Homo sapiens: one gene and its partners. The protein of the gene in region 2 interacts with the protein of the main gene of each other region in a pairwise test. Each region holds a gene or a part of one and is shown on either strand. Other genes may lie near its edges.

Region 1 (7,038 bases), on a different chromosome or scaffold from region 2:
TTAGTGAAAATGAAATTTTACAATAGAGATATTGTAAAAATGGGTGTTTGAGGAGGATCGTCTTTGAAAAATTATCTACTGGGTGTTACTGAAAATGAAAATTTTACAATACGGATATTGTAAAAATGGAGTTTGAGGAGGAGCACCTTAGAAACTTTATACAAGATGGGGATCCTGGGAGCAAGGAAATTGGAAAAAAAAGAATTACAGTAACCTGGGCCTCAGATCTACATGAAAAGCTATAATGGGATGAGAGAAATGGGAGATCAAGCCTCAAGGAGAAAACTGATTAAAAACTGGACTGACAGCAAGTTTTTGGACATGGAGAATGGAGAGCAGAAAAAGATAACTCCAAGGCTGGGGTAAAAATATAAAGGTGGTGACACTTTTCAGGGCAAAGGAATTACGCAATGAGGCCTGTTTAAAAAGAAAACGGGGGCTGGGGATATATGGTGATGAATCCTGTTTTCAAATATCAAGTTGTACAGGTACCTGTGGAAAATTCCAAAAGTCACAAACTGACCCACAGGGTGGGAAAAATGAAGTCATTCGAATACAAATAGTAGGTATAAACAATCAAAATGGATAAATAGGAGTATAGAAAATGAAGTGAATAAAAGACAGGGAGATTATTCTCAGTGGAGAAGAGGAGAAAGGGGAGTGGGTGGAAAGATCAACTAAAAAAAGAAAGACAGATATTAGAGAAAAAGGATCCCACAAGCCAAAGGAGGGAGAATTCAACAATATAAAATATAAATTAGATCAAAAAAGACAAGAAATAATAATAAAAAAAGGCCTTATTATTTGTCCACTGGTGAGTCTAAGAACATTTCACTGGAATGCTAAGTATGAAAGCCAGTAAAAAGAAGTTTTAAGAACAGATTAATGAAAAAGGGGGGTTGAAAAATCAAAGATATGTTTGAAAAACCATGAACAATAGAGGAGAAACAGAATGGTAGTTGGAAATGGGCAATGAGGATGAAAGCATTTCACATTTTATGCTGTAGATGAACTTACTATTGTCATCCTAACTGACCATCTGCCTGGCCTGGTACATGGATATTTCATTTCCCTCCACAATTCTACTTTCCCTTTGGCAGTTTGGAGAAAAATATATTTGAATTTATTATTGCTTTATCCTCCCAATTACTCTGTTAAATATGTTTTGTTTGCACAATTTAGCTTTGTAGTACTACAAAGCATCAACACTTAAAAATGATATAATTGTAACCCCAAAAAGCATTTTCCACCAATTTTCCAGTAATTGTAATGTATTTGCACTCTACTGCACATTCTTTTCCCCAGTACCTCTCATGACAAGCGCTACATATTTTTAAAAAGCTGGTTAGAATTACCATGTTCATTATACACACCTTAGCACAGTAGTCAGAACAGGCTCTAGAATCAAACTGTGTGGGTCAGAATCAGTTTTATCACATACTGGCTGGGTGATATTGGTCAGCTCACTCAACTAAGCCTCCGTTTCCTCATTTATAAAATGGGGGATAAAATAATACCTATTGATATGGTTTGGCTGTGTCCCATCCAAATCTCATCTTGAATTGTAGCTCCCACAATTCCCACGTGTCGTGGGTGGGACCAAGTGGGAGGTAATTGAATCACGGGGGCAGAACTTTCCTGTGCTGTTCTTGTGATAGTGAATAAGTCTCACAAGATCGGACGGTTTTATAAAGAGTTCCCCTGCACAAGTTCTCTCTTTGCCTGCTGCCATCCATGTATAAGACATGATTTGCTCCTCCTTGCCTTCCACCATGATTGTGAGGCGTCCCCAGCCATGTGGAACTGAGTCCATTAAACCTCTTTCCTTTATAAATTACCCAGTGTCAGGTATGTCTTTAATAGCAGCATGAGAACAGACTAATACATTTATCATGAGCCTGAGAAAGGCATAACAGGGTTGGGCACATAGTAAGTGCTCAATAAACGTCGGCTATTATTATTTGGAGACTCAGAACCAAGAGTAAAGTTAACTGCTCTGTTTGGGAATCAACCACCATATTCTAGCACTGCACCTTGCTCCATGGAGAAAATCTCTGAAACCTAACATGCCTCTCCCAGGGCTATGTTGGATGGCATTAGAGTTATGAAAGAACCACCTTATCATGTCAGTTCCTAAAATGAGAAGCTTAGGATGGGAGGAGAAAGTACTGATGAATAGTTCATTTCAGATGAACATAAAGATAGAATCTATAGGATAAAGGAGCTTAATGAATGCCATTCACAGTTAAGAGCTCAAAATGTCATACAGCCTAGTCAATAATATTCTATGCTAAGAGTGTGAACTTGAGACAAAGAATGATTTCTAGTGATGTCCTCAAAGAATCCACAGCCTTTTTCTATTGTCTTATACCATTTGGCTAATTCTGTATATGTGCTGTATCAGCTTTGATAATTCTTTCAAGACACAGTCTTTTCTCACACCCAATATAACACTAATTTTTCTAGTCATATTATTTTCTCCAAATTTATGCCACATGCTTAGTAATTCTGAGATTTAAGTAATCTGGCTACATATTACTCTTAATACTGACACATAAAGAGACTTTAGCTAGTACATCTGTATACATTTCAATGTGTTGCTCTGGTCTATGGCCATACCACCCTGAATGCACCCAATTTTGTTAATATGTTGCATTGCTAAAAGGACTTTTTATTGGAATAGAAGAGAAGCGTTCTTCTAAAGTGTATGGCAGGTGTGTGTGTGTGTGTACATACACATGTGTACATACACATATATTTTCCCTCTGACAATGCACCCATCATATGTAATATTTGCATACAAGGTAATACTGGCCCCAGGAAGAATCAGTATCTTACAGAGGGTAAGGCACAACTGAAACACAGAGCAAAGATCTAGATACAACCAGATTTACTTGTTTCTGGTTTCTTAAAATTTCAAGTACAAAGAAACTAGGAATGGTAACTTATAAATAAAAGAAACAAGAGAAGGGAGGATAAGAAAATAAAGGATAATCGAAAGGACTGTTGGAAACCAACATGACAAGTGATGGGTGTCTTCATTCACCAATGGCTCAATGAAATTGATGTAGATAATTCTGATGTTGTTAGTGGTCAAAGTGGGCCATAGAGAGGCAGAGAAGGAATGTTATAGGGAAAGAATTTATGATCCAAAAGGTGGTCCTCTATGACGTAAGACTTTGATTGCTTTTTTTGGCCCATCAATCATAAAATGATTATTATTTCTTTTCAGGATAGTCACAGGGTGAAATTATGAAGCTTTCATCAGAACCTATATAATTTTTTTTCTGAATAGGCTCAATGTAATCAATTTTAAGTTTAAAGGTTAATTTTGGAAAGCCCAAAATTTCTCAATTCCAACTCTGGTGAATAAGTGGCTACTCAAATGGTAAAACTAAAGTGTAAGAGTAATAGAGGGTTTTCTCATATGGTTTATTAAATGGGAATTCTAAGAGTGTTCCAAATATTTGGAAGAATATAGTAGTATGGAATAATAGTACTTGGGAATAACAAGTGACAACCCACATTGGATGCGTAAGTTCTGGCATGTTACTTTAAACCAGTCTCATTACTTTATATAGTATTCCTTGGTATAACAAAAGCCTCAAAGATGAAATATAGTGCCTGGTGATACTGAGTTTAAGAGTACATCTTTGTTGGTAGATTATAGACATGGATTACAGATGGAGTGCACCAGAGTTCAAAAGAATGAAAACCTGTGAGGTAAGGTATTAGATTACCACTGTGGATATTAAAGTCATATAAACTAATGGCAAGAAACAGATGGAGAATAACGAGTGAGGTGCTGAGGCCATCTAAAGAGATGGGTGCAAGGTAATGATAGGAGTGACAGACCATCTAGTCAGGGAGTTTGCACAGGCTGTTAAGAACCTGAGAAAGCAGTATTGTAATGGGCCAAAAAAGATGAGTATACATTCTTTGTAAGGTTTTTATCTTCCTAAAGCATCTTCGTCTCCTTCTCCTACCTGATGCCATAACTAGGATAGTGCCAACTATCTGTACCACAGTGTACAGTGGGGAGGTGGAAGGAGAGTCAGAAGTCACCAAAATGTATAACTATCCAAGCTCAAGAGCAGCTGGGCTGAGTCTCCACTCACCTCTTTCTCTGTATTACTCCCATAACCATTACTAATGTGTCCACTTTCTTTACTGACACAGGTGCTGGGACTGGGGGTGGTGAAGGATATGTACAGATGCTCAATGACTCAATGGAGTCAGTGAAGGTGATACATGAAGAAAAATGCTGGAGTGCTGTTAAAAATATAGCATTCTGAGTTTGTATGGGAATACAAATTTCCACTGACTAGAAGGAATATTAGAATAAAAAAATGCACACTTAAGCATAAATACTTTAAGTGTCTGTAAAATTTTCCTAGAAAGCTACATACAAATATAAGTTTCACACAGAAGCTACTTCTGACTCTACAGCAGCTTCTTAGATCAGATTAGGAATACAAGGGCACCTTCAAGGGAATAAATGGGAGAGGGGGATCACAGGAGATGGGAAGAAGCACAGGAACTAGGAGTAGCCAGCCTCTCTCAAACCTATAGCTACTCACCCAAAAGACAAAGTTAAGCTCTTCAAGCCATGACAAGCAACTTGCTCTAATGCTATTTTAAATTTCTAAAGGATACATTAGGTCATCAGGAGCTCCATCAGATACTTTCAAAGACAGTCAAGCTAATCAACCTTCACCAAGGCACTGGGCCCAAATTACTAAAGAGCTATCCTAACTTTGCCACCACTATAGATTCTGACACTAAAGTTGTGATGACCTTTCTGCCTTTTAGTACACTGAAAGACCTCTCACCAGTGTGTGGTTTCCCTAATGCTGAATAATGCTCAAACTCTAACTGATGTTGTTCCTAAACGCTTATGGATTCAGATTTTTCACCACTGTGGATTCTCTGATGTCGAATGAGACTTGACCTCTGAATAAAGGCTTTCCCACACTCATTACATTGGTAGGGCTTCTCCCCTGTGTGAATTCTCAGGTGTTGAATGAGACCAGTGTTCCCATTGAAAGCTTTCCCACATTCTTTACATTTATAGGGTCTTTCTCCAGTGTGGATTCTCTGATGTTCAATAAGGCCTGACTTCTGACTGAAGGCCCTCCCACACTCATTGCATTTGTAGGGTTTCTCCCCAGTGTGGCTCCTCTGATGACCAATAAGATGTGAGCTCCGCCTGAAGGTTTTCCCACACTCATCACACTCATAGGGCTTCTCCCCAGTGTGGATTCTCTGATGTCCAATGAGGTGTGAGCTATGACTGAAAGCTTTCCCACACTCATTACATTCATAGGGTCTCTCTCCACTGTGGATTCTCTGGTGCAGAATAAGGCCCGCACTCTGACTGAAAGCCTTCCCACACTGATTGCACTGATATGGCTTCTCCCCAGTGTGGATTCTCTGGTGCAGAATCAGGCCTGTGTTCTGACTGAAGGCTTTGCCACACTCCTTACAGTGATAGCGTTTTACTTTGTTGTGGATATCCTGATGTGAAAGAAGGGCTGACCTGTAACTGAAGGCTTTACCACACACATTACACTGATAGGGTTTCTCCCCAGTGTGGATTCTCCAGTGGCGAACAAGGCCTGAGCTCTGAGCAAAGCTTTTCCCACATTCATCACATTTATGTCGTCTCTCTTGTGTGGGATTTCCCCGCTGCCTCTCTAATCTGCCCAGAAGGTCTCGGGCTTCTTCATGCTCAAGACCCCTGATAACATCCCCGTTGCATTTGGCAGCTGTCTCTCCATGTGGCTGGATTCCAGTAGATATTACCTGTTTTGAAGCTAATTCCCTGTTCTCACTCCTGGTCTCACCACCTGAAATAAAAATGTAATAAACAAACATCAAGCCAATGTCACAACCTATTCTTTATGCTAGGAGAAAGGAACTGAAGATAGGGGAAAAGGAAAGTACACATGAACAGCTATAAGTAAACACAAAACTTCTGTCTCCAAAATAGCTTCTTAATAGTGACCTTGCTTAATATGAGCTAGTCAACTGGGAAAGAGGTACCATTAAAAAAAGAGAGTTAATTGGAAGGGGAACTAAAGTCAGGAAAGGATGAACTGAAGTGAGGTGAAAGTTGGGGAGAGGAATATGGAACTACTAAAAGAACTAATGAGCAGGACAGAAATGGGAAAATGCCCAGTCATCAAAAGGGAGGAGATACAATTAATTTATGTGAGAAAAATATATGTAGGAATCCCATGACAACTTGGAGAAGAAATATATGAACTCAGAGAGCACCTCTGAGATGTCAATTTCCAACTGGCAAAAACGCCAGTACCCTGGTACAAAATGTAAGGAAGTTCTGGACAGGAGAACAAAAGTTTCACGTAAGATTTCAAGAAATCTCAACATCATATCCCTCTGCTGGATCCTGAGTTAAACTTAACTATGTCTTTCAGAAAGGCTGTAGCTACTATACACATAAACAACAAACAAACAAAAAATCTAAAATGACAATAATAACCACACCTCTCCTTACCCAGGGAGAACATGTTTCTGAAATTTTCTGGCCTGTTATCTCTACACAGATCCTTCTGTGATGGATCAAGAAGCCACTCCTCTCGAATAAGGGACACAGCCATGTCTTCAATCTTCTCCAAAGTCTGAAACAAAACAAGATCCCCATTTGGGGACTGGGACTGTTCCACAGCTCAAACCTATAGAGCTTGAGAGATCCACCAGTATTGGGAGAGAATTACAACTTGGGAATGTACTATGTAAAGGGATCTGAATAGCTAGGAAGAAGAGGAAAATGCATGAGATTTACTGGGGGAAATTCAGGATCAATCTGTCCCTAGGCAAAAGAATTTTTGGGACAACTTTTTGGGTAGGTACTGCTACAAACTAGACAGTCAAGATATAGGGCAGATGCCACAAACACTGACAAGCACAGCTATGGCGTTTCAGTGAGAAGGAGCACAACTCACCTGGAACCCTGCTGTGAGAAGTGTAGCTGTCATTTCCTGGTCTCCAGAACTTCCTTTCTGGGAACGAGTA
Region 2 (7,038 bases):
CAATCTGAGTTACATTAAAATAAAGACTCAGTTGTTTTTATTTTTCTACTGTGCAGTAAGAAAAAATATTCACAACAAACATGACAATATATCAAAGAATAGTTCTACACAAGTTACCTTGATACCTCTTTAACTGTCACTTAAATATCATAAGAAAACATTTTAAGACATATACAAACAAAACTAGCCAAGTGTTACAACTTATAATAAATTAACCCAAAGAAAAAATAACTTTATATATATATATTTATATTGTATATACACATACACACACAACAGAATGACACAATAATATGCTTCTTCCCATAGTTTAAGTAAACAAATAAGTAGTCTAGCCAATCTAGCTATATTTGATCTCGGCCATAGGCATCATCACATCGGCGATTAAATAAATAAGTGTTTCAAGCAACATAAACAGTGTTTCAAATGTACCAACACAGCCCAATTCTATCAGCATGGGCTACAAAGTGAATTTGAAAATTTCTTAATGAATTTAAAGCAAATGTATCTTTTGTTTTCCTCTCCTAAACACATTACATTTAACTATGATACTAAGATATGTAAATAATTTTGTAGCACCTACTGCTCAAACTAAGGAAGTTTTAGATCAAAAGGAAAATTAATCTTTTTAATTTTTGTTCTGCTGACATCCCATACTGATGACTTAAAGAAAAACTGTCTTTCAACTCATCTCCTTGCTTTTGGGTTTTGACTGTGGGGAACTGTGGTACCCTGGGTAGAACGAACACTCCTTTCCCCTAGTAATTAATAATTGTTTTTTAATTATTATTACATGCTATGAAAAGATATGAAGATCATCTGTTTATAGCCCATCCTTCAAAAAACAGTCTACGAATCCAGTTTAAAACACACATCTTGATCTCTAAAAAGTTACCAGTGCAGTATGAACGCGACAAAGTTGTCAATTTCCCCTAAATTAGCCAGTCAAAATATTTTTTTCTCAAATCCAGATTCTCTTGTAAAAATTCTTTATATTTTATAAAAATAGATTTTTCTTGAAACCCATTTTCAGCAAAGAGACCACCTCTTTGGCAACAATGTTAATGTTATTAAATTGTTAATGTCATCAGGTATCCCCCTTGCCCCCATCCCCTAACAGAAGACTGTTTTAGTTCACATGATATAAAAGAAAGAAGGAAAAATAAAAAAATTTGCAAAAGTTTTTTTTTATTTTTGCAATTTTTATTATTCCTCTTTAATTTGTGTGGGGGTTTTTACCAATCTGATTGGATCGATATTTTGACAAAAAAGAAAAATCTTTTTTTCCTTTCTTTGAATCCCATTACTTTGTAAAAATTGTTTTATTTTTATTATTTTTTTTGTTTTTTGTTTTTCTTCTTCAAATGAGCGAATGGTCATCTTAAAAAGATCCACCTTCAAGGAAGGTAGTAAAGTTAGCTGGCTGGGTAAAAATCCCTGCACATCGCTATCTATGTATATTATATTCAACAACGACAGCTATGAAAGAACATTCAATGCATCAAAGGTATTTTTTGTTTTTTTTTTTTCTTTTTTTCTAAGCATTATAAAATCCTTTCCTGGTACACCTCAGGATAATCCAATGTTTTAATACTTAGGCAACACTGGCTTATAAAGTCCATGGTTGAATATAAGCCTTGAAAAGTTTGTTTCTCTCTCTTTCGTGTATGTGTGTGTGTGCGCGCGTGTGTTTTGTTCGTATATATTTCTATATATATTTTAGTAAGTAAGAATGGGAAATTCAGGACTTGTGGGCTTTGTTGGTTTTAAAGGAAACTTGCAACACTCTGTCTCCCAGGCGGTACCCGTTGAGGCTGGCGATGGCCATGGCCGCCTCATCATAGTTGGTCATGGTGACAAAGCCGAATCCCTTGCACTTGTTGGTGTTGAAGTCACGAATCACCTTTACGTTGTTCACTGCTCCAAAGGGGCCAAAGAGCTGCCAGAGGACACTCTCATCGGAATCGGGGGACAGGTTGTAGACAAAGATGCACCACCCAGTTCCTGTGTGACCAGGGATGTTCATTCCCACAAGGCTTGTCATTCCATCAATGGTAATTGGGGAGAACCTGGGGGGACAAGCAGAAGGGGGGACTGGTCCAGACATCAGTCTGACCAAGGATAACACACAGATGCACAGACACAGACATGGGGCAGAGGGCTGAGTGAGTGTTTACAGGAGAGTCTTCAGGGTTCAAAAACCAAAATGTAAAAACTAATGTCTATGTCATTTCCTCTGATGGGAATGGCTTGACTGGCTAGGGCATGTTCATGCTGAGAGAAAGACCTAGGTCAATTTCTAAAAACCATAAGGGACTCCCAGGGCTCCCAGAGCAAGGCTCTGTAACAGTTCTATCACAGTATATGCTCATAGCGCACCCCAACCTGACTCCACCCCACCCCGACTCCACCCCACCCCAACAATAGACAATGTGCTCTTGGAGGAAAGGGTCTATTTCATTCATTCTGTGGCTCTATTTGTTTATTCAGTGGAGCACATATGGGAATCTCACAGATATAGTGACACATAGAAAATGCTCAATAAATATTTATTGGTTGAATAAGTGACTCACTTTGGCCAGTGCTTGGGAAATTTCATTGTTTTTTTTTTTAAAGGCAGATTAGGAGATGGCCCTAAAGTGCTTAAGTCTACCATTTTTGCACTCCCTTGACCTACGGTTGTCAAATGTTTCTTGGTGAGGATGGAGATACGTGACAATGAACAGGCCTTTCTTGCTATTAAACAGATGGGTGGTTCATGTTTCATTTAGCATTTATTCAAAAGGGTTTCCCCCACAAACTCAAGCAATAATAATAAAGATGTATTACTCCTTTATGCTATGTTATCTGGAATTTATTCCTAAGTATCACTGAAGCAAGACTGCAAGTGGTTTGTGCATTTATATATCTTGAATCGCTATACATTAGAAAAGCATAGAATTGTTATTTGCCCTATTACAACTGCTTTTGTATTAGGTTTAGAAATCTTCTCAGTTTTTGTGCAATCCTGAAAAGAAAAAATGACCCTTTAAATTCTATTCACTGTCTGATGAAATAAATCCTTGTGTAATTTGTGAGGGATGTACCAGATGAAACAATTAGGTTACCAGTGCCTATAGCAGAACAATATTTGTTAATGTTTTGTTTCATATCAAACTTACATAGGGACTTTTTTCTTTTTTTTTCTTTCTTTCTTTCTTTCTTTTTTTTTTGAGATGGAGTCTCACTCTGTCACCCAGGCTGGAGTGCAGTGGCGTTATCTTGGCTCATTGTAACCTCTGCCTCCCGGGTTCAAGTGATTCTCCTGCCTCAGCCTCCTGAGTAGCTGAGACTACAGGCACGCACCACCATGCCTGACTAATTTTTTTGTATTTTTAGTAGAGACGGGGTTTTGCCATGTTGGCCAGGCTGGTCTTGAACTTCTGACCTCAGGTGATCCACCCACCTTGGCCTCCCAAAATGGTGGGATTACAGGCATGAGCTTATATACGGATTTTTGATGCTATACACTGAATAGTTTCTTGCTTTTCATTTGGCCAGGGTTTTACTGGGGGAGATAGGAAAAGGAGAGAAAGCAAAAACTAGGGAAGAGCATGGTGTAAAGTGTGAGCTACAACTGTTTTTAAAAATAAGCAAATATTCTTGGAGATTTGAAAGTCCTATTAAAGAATAGTTCTGTATCTAACTAGAATTTGGATAATCAAATGGCTACTGAATATATGCTAAATATAACAACTCAATAGACAATATTTTTGCTATTATTCACTAAGTCAATCTTCCCTCTTGTTTAAAAACAATTAACAAGAAAAAGCCAAAAAATATCATGGTGTAGATCCTTAGACGTGCAAATCCATGTCTATTTGTAACTTGTATCATTTCTGAAGATTGTCTTTTTAATATTCTATCCTCCAACCAAGTGAGTTGACCCTGGTGAACTGACCTCTTTCTGTTTATAGGTAGAAAACAGCTAAGTATTTATTATAAGTCAAAGGTCAGGGCCAGCAAAGAGATTGCAAGTACAGCCTCTATCCTAGTTGGTGACAGTTAATTGCAGCATTTTGGTAGGAAGCGTTCTAAATCCAAATCTGGGTTCAATAGGAAAAGAGAATGCTATTATCAGCTAGTGATGTTTACTCTGGGTGGGGCAGTGGAGGAGGTGGTGGCAGGCCTACTACAGCTGTGTCTTCCCCTATCTTATCTATTTATAAGCATTTCTCTTTTCACAACATTTAGCACTACCTCACTAACATCAGAGAGGAGCAAAGGAATGAGATAGAGCTAGGAAAGATGTAAAATCCCTGGGAACAGGCAAACAGTGTGCTGGAAATGTGGAGATAATTCATAGTTATCCTCATTGATGCTGGGATTGAGATTTGAAAGGCCGGTCCTCTGATAGTGAAGTCTGCAGTCAGGTTACTTCCTCTACCATGCACCAGTTCCCAGAGTCAGGGTACTTACCATGGATGGCCAGTGAAAGAACTGGGGGTGTGATGTGGACTATTAAAGACTACATCTCTTTCCCTTGACTGTAGGAAGGGGAATTAAAGTGTGCAGCTCTACTGAGCAAGATGATGAAGACACTATGTCCCTAGCAGTGCAGTGGAGCTTATCAGAAGCACATATGGGAATCTCATGGACACAGTGACATCACACACCCAACTTTCCAAGATTCAGATTTCATACTGGGTCTGGAAAACTTTGAATCTGCATTCAGAGAGCCCCAAAAGCCTTGACTCTGGGCCCCCAACCCCACAAAAAGCCTTTCAGTGACAGGAACAGCAAGTTTAAAACACACATAACATATAACCAAGGGAGGATTTATAAGAACTGTTAAAACCTGTAACAAAAGAAACCCCTGGTTGAGGTGCACACAGATACACTTCATTCTCAGGATGTGCTCTGAAATGCACACTGAAGTGGGGGCAGGAGTTAGAAAGTCATCCACGTGTTTGTTTATCCTTTGGCCAGAGCTGGTAGTCCAAAATCTAATTTTTCTACTGAAAAATCATAAGATTGTCAACCACAATTAGCAAAATGTTCTAATTCTGATTTGCTGGAATCTGCCCTCTTAACTGAATCTTGGCATTGCTAATGCAAAACAGTTTGCTCTGCAAGTTTGCAAAACCAGCCAGCAAAGAGTCGGAGCCTTTCCCCTTAGGGGAGCCATTCAAAGGACCAGATTATTAAGGGCTTGGTAGCTGTGGCACCTGAACCATAGGAGAAGCCCACCTGCAAATAAAAGAAAAAGTGAAACACACAAATACATTTTGTGTGCCCTAAAAGAAACAAAATCAACTGAGGTCCGAAATTAAAATTAAGAATTTGACATGCTGGTGGAAGAAAAAGGAAGAATTTTTTTCTTTTAAAGTAAAGTTAGTGAATTAAAAAAAAAAAATTCTAGCCCCAGTCTGTGCCAACATGGACATCTGGCAATCTGTGGAGTTTTAATTACCTCTTTACGCCATAGGCCATATTAAGCAAATTGTCCAGCCTGCAAAGAGAAGGAGGGTCTCTGGGTTAATGCCTCACAGATGGCAAGATCGCTCAATGGAACTATTAATAAGAATGCTCCATTTTCAAAGAAGAAAAGCTCAACAACTTTCCCCACTGCTTAGGAGTCTATCCACCGGTAGTTTCCCCCTTTTCTGTCTCTAACTGCAAGTAATTCATGTTCAGGTCATTGCTAGAGTTTAAAGCAAGTGTCTAATGAGTCTCCCTTTCTTTCAAGGTCTGAATTAATACCATTCCCCCCACCTCTCAGAACATTTGTGTGGATTTTGTTTTATATTGTAGTGAAATTGTTCAAAGCGGGGGCTTCTTAAATTGTTCACCTTTTTACTATAATTAAACTTGTAAATAAAGGTCTCTGTTCCAGATTAACAATACACAGGCACACAATATGTATCAGAACAGATCTTTTCTGTTAGCCTTGCTACATTAACTAAATCATCTTACTACACACATTTTTGGGAGGCAGGGGGAGTTTGCAGGTTAAGATTTTTAAAAAGTGGCTTACTGTTTACTGCCTGATAGCACCTCCCAGCAAACTGCCATTACGCTATAATCTTCCTCACATTCACTACCTTACTTGGGGACAAGCTATTCACACCATAGGGCAGTAGTAACGATAGTTTCCACCATTAGAAGTCTGCTGGAGAGGCTTTTTACATAAATACTGCATGTGCTCTCAAGCAAAATAAAAATTAGATGACTTGGACTCTTCATGAAATCATTAACCATTTCAAATTCACAGGGCATAGGAGGACACGAAAGAGGATGATTTTTCTCCTCATGTAGCCAGATGGAGCATACTATCCTAGATAGAAGGACCTACTATTTCCCATGTGAAGTTTCTCAAAGAGAAAAACATTTTCATCAAAGGGAAGCTGGGCTGTGGTGTGGAATAAAGTAATTGTTTAGAATTTATCATGGGTAAGTCAAACATATTTTTATCTCTTGTATAATAGAGACCAGTCAAGGTCATACTGCCTTCATGGAGAGAAACCTGTCTTTTAGAAAAGTCCCAGGAGAAGGGCAATGCCCCCCTGCCCCAGGAGCTTCCTGGGGGTTGGGTACTTGAAGGAAACACTAATCAGGCTTGGACAGGATCTTCCTCCCTATCTTCCCAGAATCTACTGACTTAACATAATAAGGTTAACACCAAAGGCACTTCCCCCTCCCCTGAACTCAACAGAGTTACCTGCCGAGGGAAAAGAAGATAGGAAAAACAACTCCTTCTGGCAAGGATCTGCCTTATGGTCTATTTTTTGAATTTATTAAAAGCCACTGTCCAGCCTTAAGTCTAATCTGCTGAATGTGGTCACTGATCTGTGATTAACTCTTGTTGAAACTGAACCTTCATGTTTGGTTAAATACAGACATTTTGTTTCTACCAAAGAATCTAAAGTTTATACAGTCACAGTAGTAAATTGGAAGAGGGCTTAGAAGGGCATCTGCTCCAACTGTCTCATTTTACAGGAATGGAAACTGAGGCTCGGGGGGAGTTTTGCACAGTGATTCCTGGGGGTGGAAGCTTTT
Region 3 (3,961 bases), about 49 Mb from region 2:
TGCCCAACCTGCCGCCCGCGGGCCGCATGTGGCCCAGGATGGCTTTGAATGCATCCCAACACAAATTCATAAACTTTATTAAAACAGTATGAGATTATTTTGCGTTTTTTTTTAGATCATCAGCTACTGTTAGTGTTCGTGTATTTTATGTGTGGCCCAGACAATTCTTCCAATGTGGCTCAGGGAAGCCAAAAGATGGGCCACCCCTGTCTAACTTGTTCACAAGAATCAGTGAAATATTAGACCAGATCTGTGCTCTTTGAGGGTATGGGACATCCTCTATCCAACACCCTGAGGTCATAGTCTGTCATTGCACCACAGGGTTCACATTGAACTGAGTGAAAGAAAGGATGATAATTTAAGAAGAATGAATGTGCCGGTTATCATCTGTGCACTGGCCGGACTATCCAAACTCAGTCCCCAAATCTGAGGATCATTACGGGATGCACCTTTTGGATATGTGCAAGGGTTTGAAGTCTCTACCAAACCAACTGAAGTGATAGTTAGCAGGAGGATGTACTTTTATTAAGGCATTATTAATTCAGGATGACATATTTATTTGTCAGAGTTGAATACTTCTGTGATGAAGGGCAATGCTTTCCTATGATCTTTCAATCTTTGTATCATCAAAATTACAATGCCAGTTAATATACTATACTCAGAATATTTTAAATAACTTTATTCTTAAATTTAACAAGCTCTTATTAGAAATGCTTTGGTATCAATAGAATAAAAAATGCTGGTTTTCCCCCACTGAATCGTGTCAAGTAACTGGAAAAGTTACACATTTGTTTTCCCCAGCTTTTTGGGAATTTTTCACAAATAATGACTACTACTTATTCACATGGCTTAATATGGTACACTGTAATGATAATTTTTTGGACTTCAGAAAAAATAAACAAAATATCCAGAAGAGAAATTTGCAAATGCTTCTTAGTTTCTTCTTCAAAGGATGTTTATATAGGTGGTACAACTCTTAGATCACCTTTTTTCCCAGCTTTGCCATTCTCATCCTTAAAGCTGCAAATTAAAGAAAAAAAAAGAGAGTTATAAAAAAAATCCTCAATTTTTACTCTAAATGGCCATTCATAGAATGCAGGAAAGTTTAGAACATACCTCAGATGGTTTTATCCAACAGTGTGAGCATTGATTTAGTAGCACAAAAAGATAGTAGAAATAATAAGCTATGGTTAACTTAGGGCAGAAGCAGGTTCAGAACTAGAAGGAACCTATTTCTATAAAGATTAGAAAAATTAGTAGAGCAAACAGTACAAGTGGAACAAATACAGGATTAATGCACAGTTTCCCTATTAGCCATACATACAGATTCCTATAGGTTGATGACTGTTTTACATACATTTCTGAGTTATGTACTGCCAAAATAAAATGGTGTTTACACTTAAACTCTATTTCATGATCGTGTTTGCTTTCAGCTCATTCAACTTCCTTTCCCAAAGGAGCTCTGGCCTTTGGATATACAATAACAAAAACAAATTTCTTTACGAATGAAACAACAGGAACAAGTTATTAAAAGCTGGAGTGATTATAAAATGTCTTTGTCAAGATATAAGTATGTTTTAAAATGGCAAATATATCTTTTTGGATATATTCCTCTGCTAATAATATATTGAATGTAGAAAGCATTTTTTAAAATGTAGATTTAGAATGTATAACACTTTTCTGGTATTCTGGATGAGTATTCTGGTATTCTATTCTTATTATTTAGGATTTCAGTGTAGAGCTGCCTTAGTCATGTTCCAAAAGTTGATAGATGCTTTCAAGGCACTGATCTAAAGATTATGTTAATGATCTAATATTACATTCACATGTAATATGGCCCAAGAACAAGCTATGTAACTGATTGCACAATTTTGTCTCATGGAAAGTAAAATGGAAGACATGTTTTCTCATTTGTATACCATATATTGGTTACCTTTTGACAATGGAAATGACCCCATACCTAAGAAACCTTTTTGCACAAATATGAGAAGGGATGGGATCTAATTCTGTAACAAGACCATGATTATTTTAATTGTCACTCCACTTATATGAAATATTTTAATTTCAATGAAGCTAAAGAGCATTATTTCCCTTGAAACTTTAACAGGGATGATCAGTTCTAGTGGCAGGGCCAAGAATATTCCCTAGAATTTAGGATGAACTGAGAGAATGTGCTCTGTAGCAAGCAGGTCTCGATTGCTGGCAGAGGCTGTAGTTACATAGCAGAAGGTGAACAGAAGGCAGAAGGCAGAAGGCAAGTCTTTATGAAGTTTATACTGTTGGATTTTATGGACCTCTATCTTGCCCCTACCAACAAAAGAGAGTAGGAGTGAGGGGCTTTTTGAGTCTCTTATAAGTCACGGGCAAATTGCTTTTTCTTACAGTCACTCCTCACTGTAAGATTCCGTAAATCAGGCACATCCTGTGTGCTGTGGACATTCAGAGAAGTTTGCTAGAGTCTGCTTTCCTTTCTTTCCTTTTTTCAAGCCTATGGCAAGTAGGTAGTGTGAGTTCCAGTAAATGCATGGGGCCAGAGCATGTTGGCAATAGAAGGCTTGGTTTAGCAGCTAAAAACCCTGGGCCATCAGCTCTCTTTTTTACTTCTATTTTCTGCTCCTGTCTGATCCCTGCCTCTTCTTCCCATAGCATTTTAGATGCATGGTTTCAGCTGGCTGAACTTGATAGAAGTCTCCTTACTCTCATTATCCCTTGGACTCTAATGGCTGTTGCAGGTTGGCAATCAGCACCAGTAGCATATGAACTCCCAGAGCTGAGATCCCCACCACTTCATCCTGGAATGCCACTGACACCTCTAAGAGGACAGAATAGAGCTGGAAGTACAAGAATAGGTTGGTGAGGACTACCAAAGAAAGCCAACTACTACCCCCTGATTGGTAGGGGTAGCAGTGAGTTCCCATGCAAAGCTGGCTGGGGCCATGCAATGGTGGAAGTGTCTGGCATTGAGCTTTATCCTATGAATATGTTATATTTACATTAAGCAGATGGACATAATGTTGCCTGAATTTTTCTGTCATGTCTTACTCTGTTCAAAATTTTGACTAAAAAAATCTTGTCTTTTGAATCTCCAGGGTCCACCTTTTTCCATTTCTTTCTTCTTCACGCTGTTTTCCAAATTAAAATTGCTCTTAGATAAGGTATTGATAACCATATTTATACCAAGGGAAAAGAGACTAACAATTCTTAACTATTATGCCTACCAGGGCTATTTATATTAAATAGGGGATTTATACCATAAATAAAGGAATTGACCTAAATGGTGAGTTTTCAAGTATCATAAGCGTTTTTTGGGGGAGTTATGGGGAGAAGCTCAACCCACTTGGTGTTTGTGAAATGGAAGTACGTAGGTGGTTATGTATTCTTTGTATATGGATGGCATGTGAGGGCATATGACACTGTGACTTACTTATTTTTAAAACCTACTTAAAAAATACACATCAGCTCTGTAGTCTGTATGCCGAATTGGAAAACAGCAATGTAAAACAATATCATGGTGGAAGGCAAGGAATTTGGAGCATTCTGTTTATAAGATACTTTGATTGATAATACAGAACTCTGTATTGTTACTTTGTCTGGAATAGGTTTTCCTGTTTTCATTATTTTAGTTCAGGGGCATGATTAGTGTTGTCTGGAAATGTTAGTCACTTCCTGTCATTTTCCATGGGGTAAATGTGTTGACAAGGTTAGAGGAGAAGAAATAAGGGTGTTCAGGAGGAGCTGGCTAATATCCAAGTTCAGAAAAGGGAGGTTTTATAGTGGATAATGTCACTGCTATTGACCGTAAACAGTGTGTTCCTCTCTTCTAAGTCTTCTGTGTTTTTTGTTTTTAAAATGAGTTTAAGATGGCAAAGTTTGATCAGTGACCAAAGCTCTCTCTTAAGATGGAAAGAAACTTAGTATCTGCAACTTTCCATTGTGAGACATATCACTCAACTCTGATTGA
Region 4 (7,038 bases), on a different chromosome or scaffold from region 2:
CCCGTCTGCCCCAATGCTTACCACCCTTGCCAACTCAGCCTCCAGCCCTCTCGTCAGCCGCCTCCTTCCTAAAACCTCCCTCCTCTGGGCTCCATGGCCCCCACTCTCCAGGTTTTCCTTCTGCCTCTTGGCCTGCCCCCCATGGTCCACTTCAGGGGCTTCTCTTCTTCTGGCCATGGTCTCTAAAGTCCCAAGCTCAGCCCTTTTCTCTCTCTACCTTCTCATAGGCAAGCCCTTCTCCTCTCAGACATTCAGGTACCAACTGCACTCCGATGGCCCGTGACTCTCTCTTCCAGGACTGCTCCTCAGAGCTCAAGACCTGCAAAGCCCTGCCAGCATCTGAAACTCCACCTCCCCATAGAAACTCAGCCTCATCCTTGCAGATTGGTGCCCCAGGGAGAGGCACATGCTCTTTCTCCTCTCCAAGCCTTTGCCCAAGCTGTCCCTTCTCTCCGGAATTCCCCCTACCTCCCTGGTCCATCTGGAAATGTCCATCTTCCACTGCCATGACCATTTTTAAAATGCTACAGCAGTGTCACCAACTCAATAAGCCTTCCCCGACTGCACCCAGACTTAATTCCTCCTCTGAGTACTTCTGTGCCTGGAGTGAGTCTCTCACTGTGCCTGGGACAATTCCATCTCCCCACCCTTTCAGGCAGGGAGCTCCCAGGGGGCAGGGAGCAGGTCTTCTGACCACAGAGTCCCCTTCAACAAATGTCTGCAGAAATAAATTCCTCCTGTCATCCCTCTCTGGTGTAAAAACAGCAGCATTCTTCCAAATTCCAAAGCAGGAATCAGGACACTGTCTTAGGCCTCATCCTTCCCATCACTCCCAATTTGTCCCCAAGTCTTATTCATTCCAGCCACTCCGATTCTCTAAAGTTCATCCCTCTCTCTACTTCCCATGCGCTGCCTCCATCCAGCCACGTTTATGCCCCTGCTGGTCCCGAGGAAGCCTCCTGACTGGTGCCCCAGCTCATGGCACGGACCCTTCCCTGCAAGCCCATCCTTCCCAGAGCTGCCTGTATTCTTCACTGACTTAAAATCTTCCCTCACAGACAGGATAAAACCCAAACTCCCACAGCGTACATACAAAGCTCCCCATTATCTGAACATGGATGAAGAATCTGCTTTGAGCCCTTTTCCTCATTTCCTGTGTCACCTTGAATAAGTCACTTAACCTCTCTGGGGCTGGGTTCAGCCCACCATAAAATAAGAAAATAGGACTAGCTCTCTCGAGTACCAGGTAGTATCAAAGCTATGATTTGGGCAGCATGGTGGAGAGTGCAAGCCATCACAATCAAATGACTTCATCAAGTGCCTCTGTGTTGGGTACTTTACAAATTTAAGACTGACTTGGGGTTTCTGAGATAGTCATGTATTAACAGACACATAAATACTAAATCCATTTAAGGTACCTTATTTATATTAAATACAGATAAAGGGGAAAAGCAGGTCATGTGTGCGGTCATGAGTGAGAGAAGCCGTGAGAGCTGAATGTTGGAGAGAATTGCCTCTCGTGATCTAACCGTCCTTTCTGCTCCACTTTCCATGTGACTAAGCGACCTAAGGCTATTATAGGAAATGAAAGCCTGCGTAGCGTACCTGTTCACACTAAATGAGAGGATTTCTGTCTCTGAGTAATGTGATCTGGGTTGTGGCCTTTTGGTTGAAACCTCATAATCACTAAGTGATCCCATACCTCTCTCAAGTAGTGTGTCATGAACCCGTCAATGATTCCATCTTGCTCCAGTCCTATGATGAGGTTCACCACGCTGGTAAATCCAAAAACTGCATACACTAGAGCAAAGAAAGCAGCAGTTTAAAAAGCAATAGCTCAGGAGACAATTACTACAAGCTTGGCATCAGCTAATAATAATGGAATGTTTTTCATGTTTTCCAGAAGATGCTGTGGACAATTATCGAGATAGACTAACAGAATACCCCTTCTACACACCCAGCTGGACCTCCACCTGTGTTCGCAGCTCTCCCCATCCCTGCCTAAGTACTCTCATCAAGGGAACACTCATCACAGGAGTGGAGAATGATGGTCACTGCCGGCTCAGTCACAGAAGATTCTAGCAGGCCAACTCCACCCATCCTCCACTCCCCTACAAGTGGCTGCCCAGAATCAAACCCACATCCCACATGGGCAGTGGGAGCAAAGCCAGTAACTGAGTGGCCAAGGAAGCATAGAAGTGACCACTAAGTTTAAGACAATGATTCAGGCTGGGCATGGTGGCTCAAGTCTGTAATCCCAGCACTTTGGGAGGCTGAAGCAGGCAGATCACCTGAGGTCAGGAGTTCAAGACCAGCCTGGCCAACATATTGAAACCCCGTCTCTACTAAAAATACAAAAATTTTCTGGGTGTGGTGGTGCACGCCTGTAATCCCAGCTACTCCAGAGGCTGAGACAAGTGAATTGCTTGAACCCAGGAGGCGGAGGTTGCAGTGAGCCGAGATCACACCACTGCACTCCAGCCTGGGCGACAGAACAAGACTCTGTCTCAAAAAAAAAAAAAGACAATGACTTGACGAAGTGATTCATCTCAATGATTCCCAAGCAGGCCACCTCACAGCGTGTCCAGTGTGGTTACCCTATTCCACATGGCGTATCCTAGAGACAGACAGGTGGCTGATGTGCAAGTGACAATGGCTTTCAGAAAAAAGACTAGTGATGTTAAAAATGAATACAAGAGGGTATAATTGAATATGACAGAAGGAAAGCTATACCTGTCAGAGAATCTTACCAGAGTTGTGAGCATCTCCTAAATGGGCTTAAAACTACTAGCACAAATAACTAAGAAATAATACTTTTTAAACAGCAGGTGATCAAATTTAGTGCATGTTAGTTTGTCAAAGCTGCATTTTCAAGTTGTAACAGATTGGTGCCTTAGACTATGGGATGGACATGGACAGAAGAAAAATCTGATGGTGAATATAAGAAAAGCTGTGAAAAAAGAAATGGAGAGGAGTGTGGGGATGGTTAATTCACAGAGAAGGGAAGCCGGCCTTGCCTGGAGTCAGCAGCCAGGAGTCCAGCATTCACATTCTCCCCAGAAGGAACAAAAGGCCACATGTGCCCTGTTTTGCAGATGTGCCTTCCCCACGCCTCCATGGGGGCCTTTGGCCCAGTTCTCATTGGCAGTGTCACTTCCTGATACTCATTTTCCAGAAGCCTCCCAGGTGATTAGCCATCATATGTCTCCAAGAAAGGAAGTGTTCGGCACATAATCTGCCAATGATTGCTGATGACAACACAAGTGTCAGACACTGTGTTAGCAATGACAAGGACATGGTCTCTGCCTTCTAGTACGTGAGGAGTCTGGCCTTGAGCCTCACCCTGAGGCTGCAGTGTACTCAAAGTTGTAACAGACCAGGACAGAGGGCTGAGGGTACAGGAGAAAGGGTGCCCAGCCTTGAAGAGTCAGGAGAGACATCAGTACAGTTAATACAGGCTCCATGGAGTGGGGAGGAACAGGAGGGACAGACAGCAGCAGGAAACTCATCTGGAAAGGTGTGCAAGGGTCAGAGCACAGGCTAGTGGAGAGAGCCAGGAAAAGGCATGTGGGCCTTGAAAGCAGACGGACCCAGCTCATCTAATGACTGGCTGTAAAACCTTAGGCAAATTACATCATTTCTGAAGCTTCAGAGCTTCTTATATGTGGATTGGGAGAAACTAGTTACTCACAATTCTTCCTTCCCACCCCACCTTTCCCAAGGCCCACTGTAGGCAGAGAATGCTCCCTATGCTGTTGCTGATGGGCTTGGCCCTATGCCTCATCTCAGCCATTGGAATATGGGTGGGAGTAAGATGGGGCAGCTCCAAGCCAAGGCCTTAAGAGCCACCACTTTCTTCCTTCTAGCCCCACTGTGCCTCTGTATCTGCCATGAGAAGGGCATGCCTGGGAGCTGCTGGTCCAAGAACAAGGAGTCAGAGAACAGCCCTGAAATCAACCCACAGCCTGATGCAGAGTGGCCCCAACCCACAGACCTGTGAGCAAGAAAAATAAATGTTTGTTGCTGTAGGACTTGGGGTGCATTTGATATGCAGCATTACTGAAGCAGAAACTACAGAACAAAATGCCCAGCAAGGTACCTGGCACAGGAAGTGCTCAAAGGCCGGTAGCAGCTTGGCTGGGGCAGCATGCATGATGGAAGGGCATGGGCTTTAGGGGTCAACAGCCACACGACCTTTGCCACATTTCTTAGCATCTCCAAGCCAGCTGCTTCACTTTCAAGTGGAGGGATGGTGAGGATTAGGTGAAAGCCTGCTGCTAAAGTGCTCAGGGTCATACAAGGTGCACTATAGGTGCTTGTCTCTATGGCAGGTTCCATTATTTTCCTCTTCATGCATATGTGCAGACCCAGACACCACACAGTTAAGTTCTGCACTAAGTGGGGGGGACTGCTAGTAGCAGGCTGAAGACAGGAAGCCCAGGAAGGAGCTAGCATGAGAGTCGAGGTCAGAGGTCAGAGGTCAAAGCATGCTGGGGTTGGCAGGGTGCCCTGCCTGGCCTGGCAGTAACTCTCCACCGGGATGCCACCTGGGAGAGGGTGGAGTCCACTGCCTGAGAGGCAATAGCCAGAGGCGAGGGCCAGATTGTCCTGAAACACCCCTACACTTGCAGCCACTGTTACCAAAGGGCTCAGAGTATTCACAACCAAGGAGGAATATGTGACTGAGGCTGAAAGTATTGTGTTATTAATCAGATACAAAAGATTTCCCTTTGTGGAGACGTACCATAGAACAGTGGGTCCCGGGGTGGTTTTCTTTTGACGAGGACACGAGCCAGCAGTGCTACCAGGAACAGGATGAGGGCAGCAACCCCTACAATAGTCCAGGAACTGCAACGACCAGAACAGGGAGGTGGTCACTATCAAAATAAACACATTGGTGCCTGGAATTTCCTGACTATTGAATGCATTCCCTCCTAGTGCTGCATAATTCATCCATAATTCTGCCTCTGCCTGCAGCTCCCAGCACTGTAGAGTTAGTGAAGTTTATCTGCAGCTCTTTGGCCCATCTGGGCTGCAGCCCATGACTTTCAGGGACCGAAGCCATCAGGTCCTCCTCATTCTCCTCTTATCCTGTCTCATGTGCACAGATGACACGTCTGGAGCTCCCTCTGCCTCACCCCACCCTGCTGCACCTATGGCCACTGCCCCACTGCCTCCACTTACACGTTCCTCTAACCCCTGCTCCCTAGCAGCTGACAGGCCTCACCACTGACTCTGCCACCTCCCTCAGGGCCAGTCAGAAACCCTCAGACTGAGCTCCAAGGAATATATAGGCATTACAACTAAACATGCCTTCCAGGGGACAAGAAAGACCTTATGTTATGTGTATAGTCAAATGGGCCAGAGAATGAGGCCAGGAAATCCATGGAGAAGGAGTCTGGACTAGACCTGAGGCCAGAATGAAGATAGCCCAACACCCCAGAACCAGGGCCAACAGACCAGCATCCAACCCCAAACCATAGAAACCAAGGTGAAGCTTAGTTGAGTACATCCCCTGGATGTTCTACAGGAAAGGGAGTGGCACCAAGGACAGCAGGGGCCAAAGCCGCTACTCAGTGGGGCAGCGATAGGGCACGAGGCTTGGTAGAGTTATCAGTCAGGAAACCGGGATCCTGGTACCCATTCTGTTGCTAACTGTGTCACCCTAGGAAAGTCACATCATTGCATCTATCTGTTTATTAATTAATTCAAAAACATAGCAAGCAAAAAAATGTATTCTGCACCCCTATGTGGTAGCCATTGTTGCAGGCCCTAGGAGACTGGATAAATAAGAGAAGTCCCTGCCTACATGGAGGAACCTATCTCAATGGACTCTGAGCTCTACCCACTAGGAGTTCTCCTGCAGTCCAACAGCAATACTCTCCCTCTCACACCTCCAGCACTGACAGGGCTTCCAATTCTAGACAAAATACTACCTGGCCCACTCCAATGGCCTGCTACACCAGGACCTCTTCAGATTGGAGCAGCTACAAGCACCACTCCTCAACTGAGACCCCTCCACACCACCACAGCCCAACATCGGGACCTTTGGATAACTATCACCGTCCCCTAGGAGAGAGAAAGATAAGAATAGAAGGAGGGAGGGAAGGGGGGAACAAATAGACGATGAGTGGATGGATAGATGGATGGATGATGGGTGAATGGTTGGATGGATGATGGATGAAAGGATGGATAGATGATGGATGAATGGATAGATGATGGATGAATGGATGGATGGATGATGGGTGAATGGGTGGATGATGGGTGAATAGATGGATGGATGATGGATGAATTGATGGATGATGGAGGATGATGGATAAATGGATGGATGGATGATGGATGAATTGATGGATGATGGAGGATGATGGATAAATGGATGGATAGATGATGATGAGTGGATGGATGGAGTATGGGTGAATGTATGGAGGATGGATGGATAAATGATAGATGGATCAATTCTATGATAAGAATGAGGCCGGGCGCAGTGGCTCACACCTGTAATCCAAGCACTTTGGGAGGTCGAGGCGGGTGGATCACCCGAGGTCAGGAGTTGGAGACCAGCCTGGCCAACATGGTGAAACCCCGTCTCTACTAAAAATACAAAAAATTAGCCAGGCGAGGTGGCGGATGCCTGTAATCCCCGCTACTTGGGAGGCTGAGGCAGTAGAATTGCTTGAACCTGGGGGTTGGAGGCTGCAGTGAGCCAAGATTGCACCACTGCAGTCCCGCTTGGATGACAGAGCAAGAGTCCGTCTCAAAAAATAATAACAATTAATTACATTTTTTAAAAAAGAATGAGGGTGGCTGTTTCAATGTCCAGGTGAGAAACTGAAAAATAGGAGGTTTCTGGTGATTGCACTTCAGTGGTTGCTCCAGGCTCCTCCTGTGGGGATGAGCTGAAGAAGGAGGAAGCCAGTGTGGGTCAAGAGTATGATGCTGGGCTGAAGAATCCCATGAGGGAAGAGGTGGGTGTGCTGGGTCAGCTGACAGGCATTTTAATGGTGAACAGCCTGAGGCAGGTGGTGGTCAGGTGACAAC

Evidence for each region.
Region 1: the proteins of ELAVL4 (region 2) and ZKSCAN8 interact in binary tests that used the Homo sapiens proteins (3 or more experiments, as listed by UniProt).
Region 3: the proteins of ELAVL4 (region 2) and PALMD interact in binary tests that used the Homo sapiens proteins (3 or more experiments, as listed by UniProt).
Region 4: the proteins of ELAVL4 (region 2) and TM6SF1 interact in binary tests that used the Homo sapiens proteins (3 or more experiments, as listed by UniProt).

Annotation. Positions count from the first base shown.
Region 1 is NC_000006.12:28,151,867-28,158,904, reverse strand, and holds part of ZKSCAN8 (zinc finger protein with KRAB and SCAN domains 8), read right to left. Parts: coding exon 6,969-7,038; intron 6,645-6,968; coding exon 6,521-6,644; intron 5,850-6,520; coding exon 4,888-5,849; 3' UTR 1-4,887. UniProt on the Homo sapiens protein: May be involved in transcriptional regulation.
Region 2 is NC_000001.11:50,195,882-50,202,919, reverse strand, and holds part of ELAVL4 (ELAV-like protein 4), read right to left. Parts: intron 5,492-7,038; coding exon 5,453-5,491; intron 2,112-5,452; coding exon of another isoform or gene 2,070-2,111; coding exon 1,742-2,069; 3' UTR 1-1,741. UniProt on the Homo sapiens protein: RNA-binding protein that is involved in the post-transcriptional regulation of mRNAs. Plays a role in the regulation of mRNA stability, alternative splicing and translation.
Region 3 is NC_000001.11:99,691,078-99,695,038, reverse strand, and holds the end of PALMD (palmdelphin), read right to left. Parts: intron 1,021-3,961; coding exon 977-1,020; 3' UTR 504-976; downstream 1-503.
Region 4 is NC_000015.10:83,110,607-83,117,644, reverse strand, and holds part of TM6SF1 (transmembrane 6 superfamily member 1), read right to left. Parts: intron 4,908-7,038; exon of another isoform or gene 4,849-4,907; coding exon 4,745-4,848; exon of another isoform or gene 1,937-4,744; coding exon of another isoform or gene 1,904-1,936; intron 1,801-1,903; coding exon 1,703-1,800; intron 1-1,702. Other genes in the region: HDGFL3 (hepatoma-derived growth factor-related protein 3), read left to right, coding at 1,904-1,936. UniProt on the Homo sapiens protein: May function as sterol isomerase.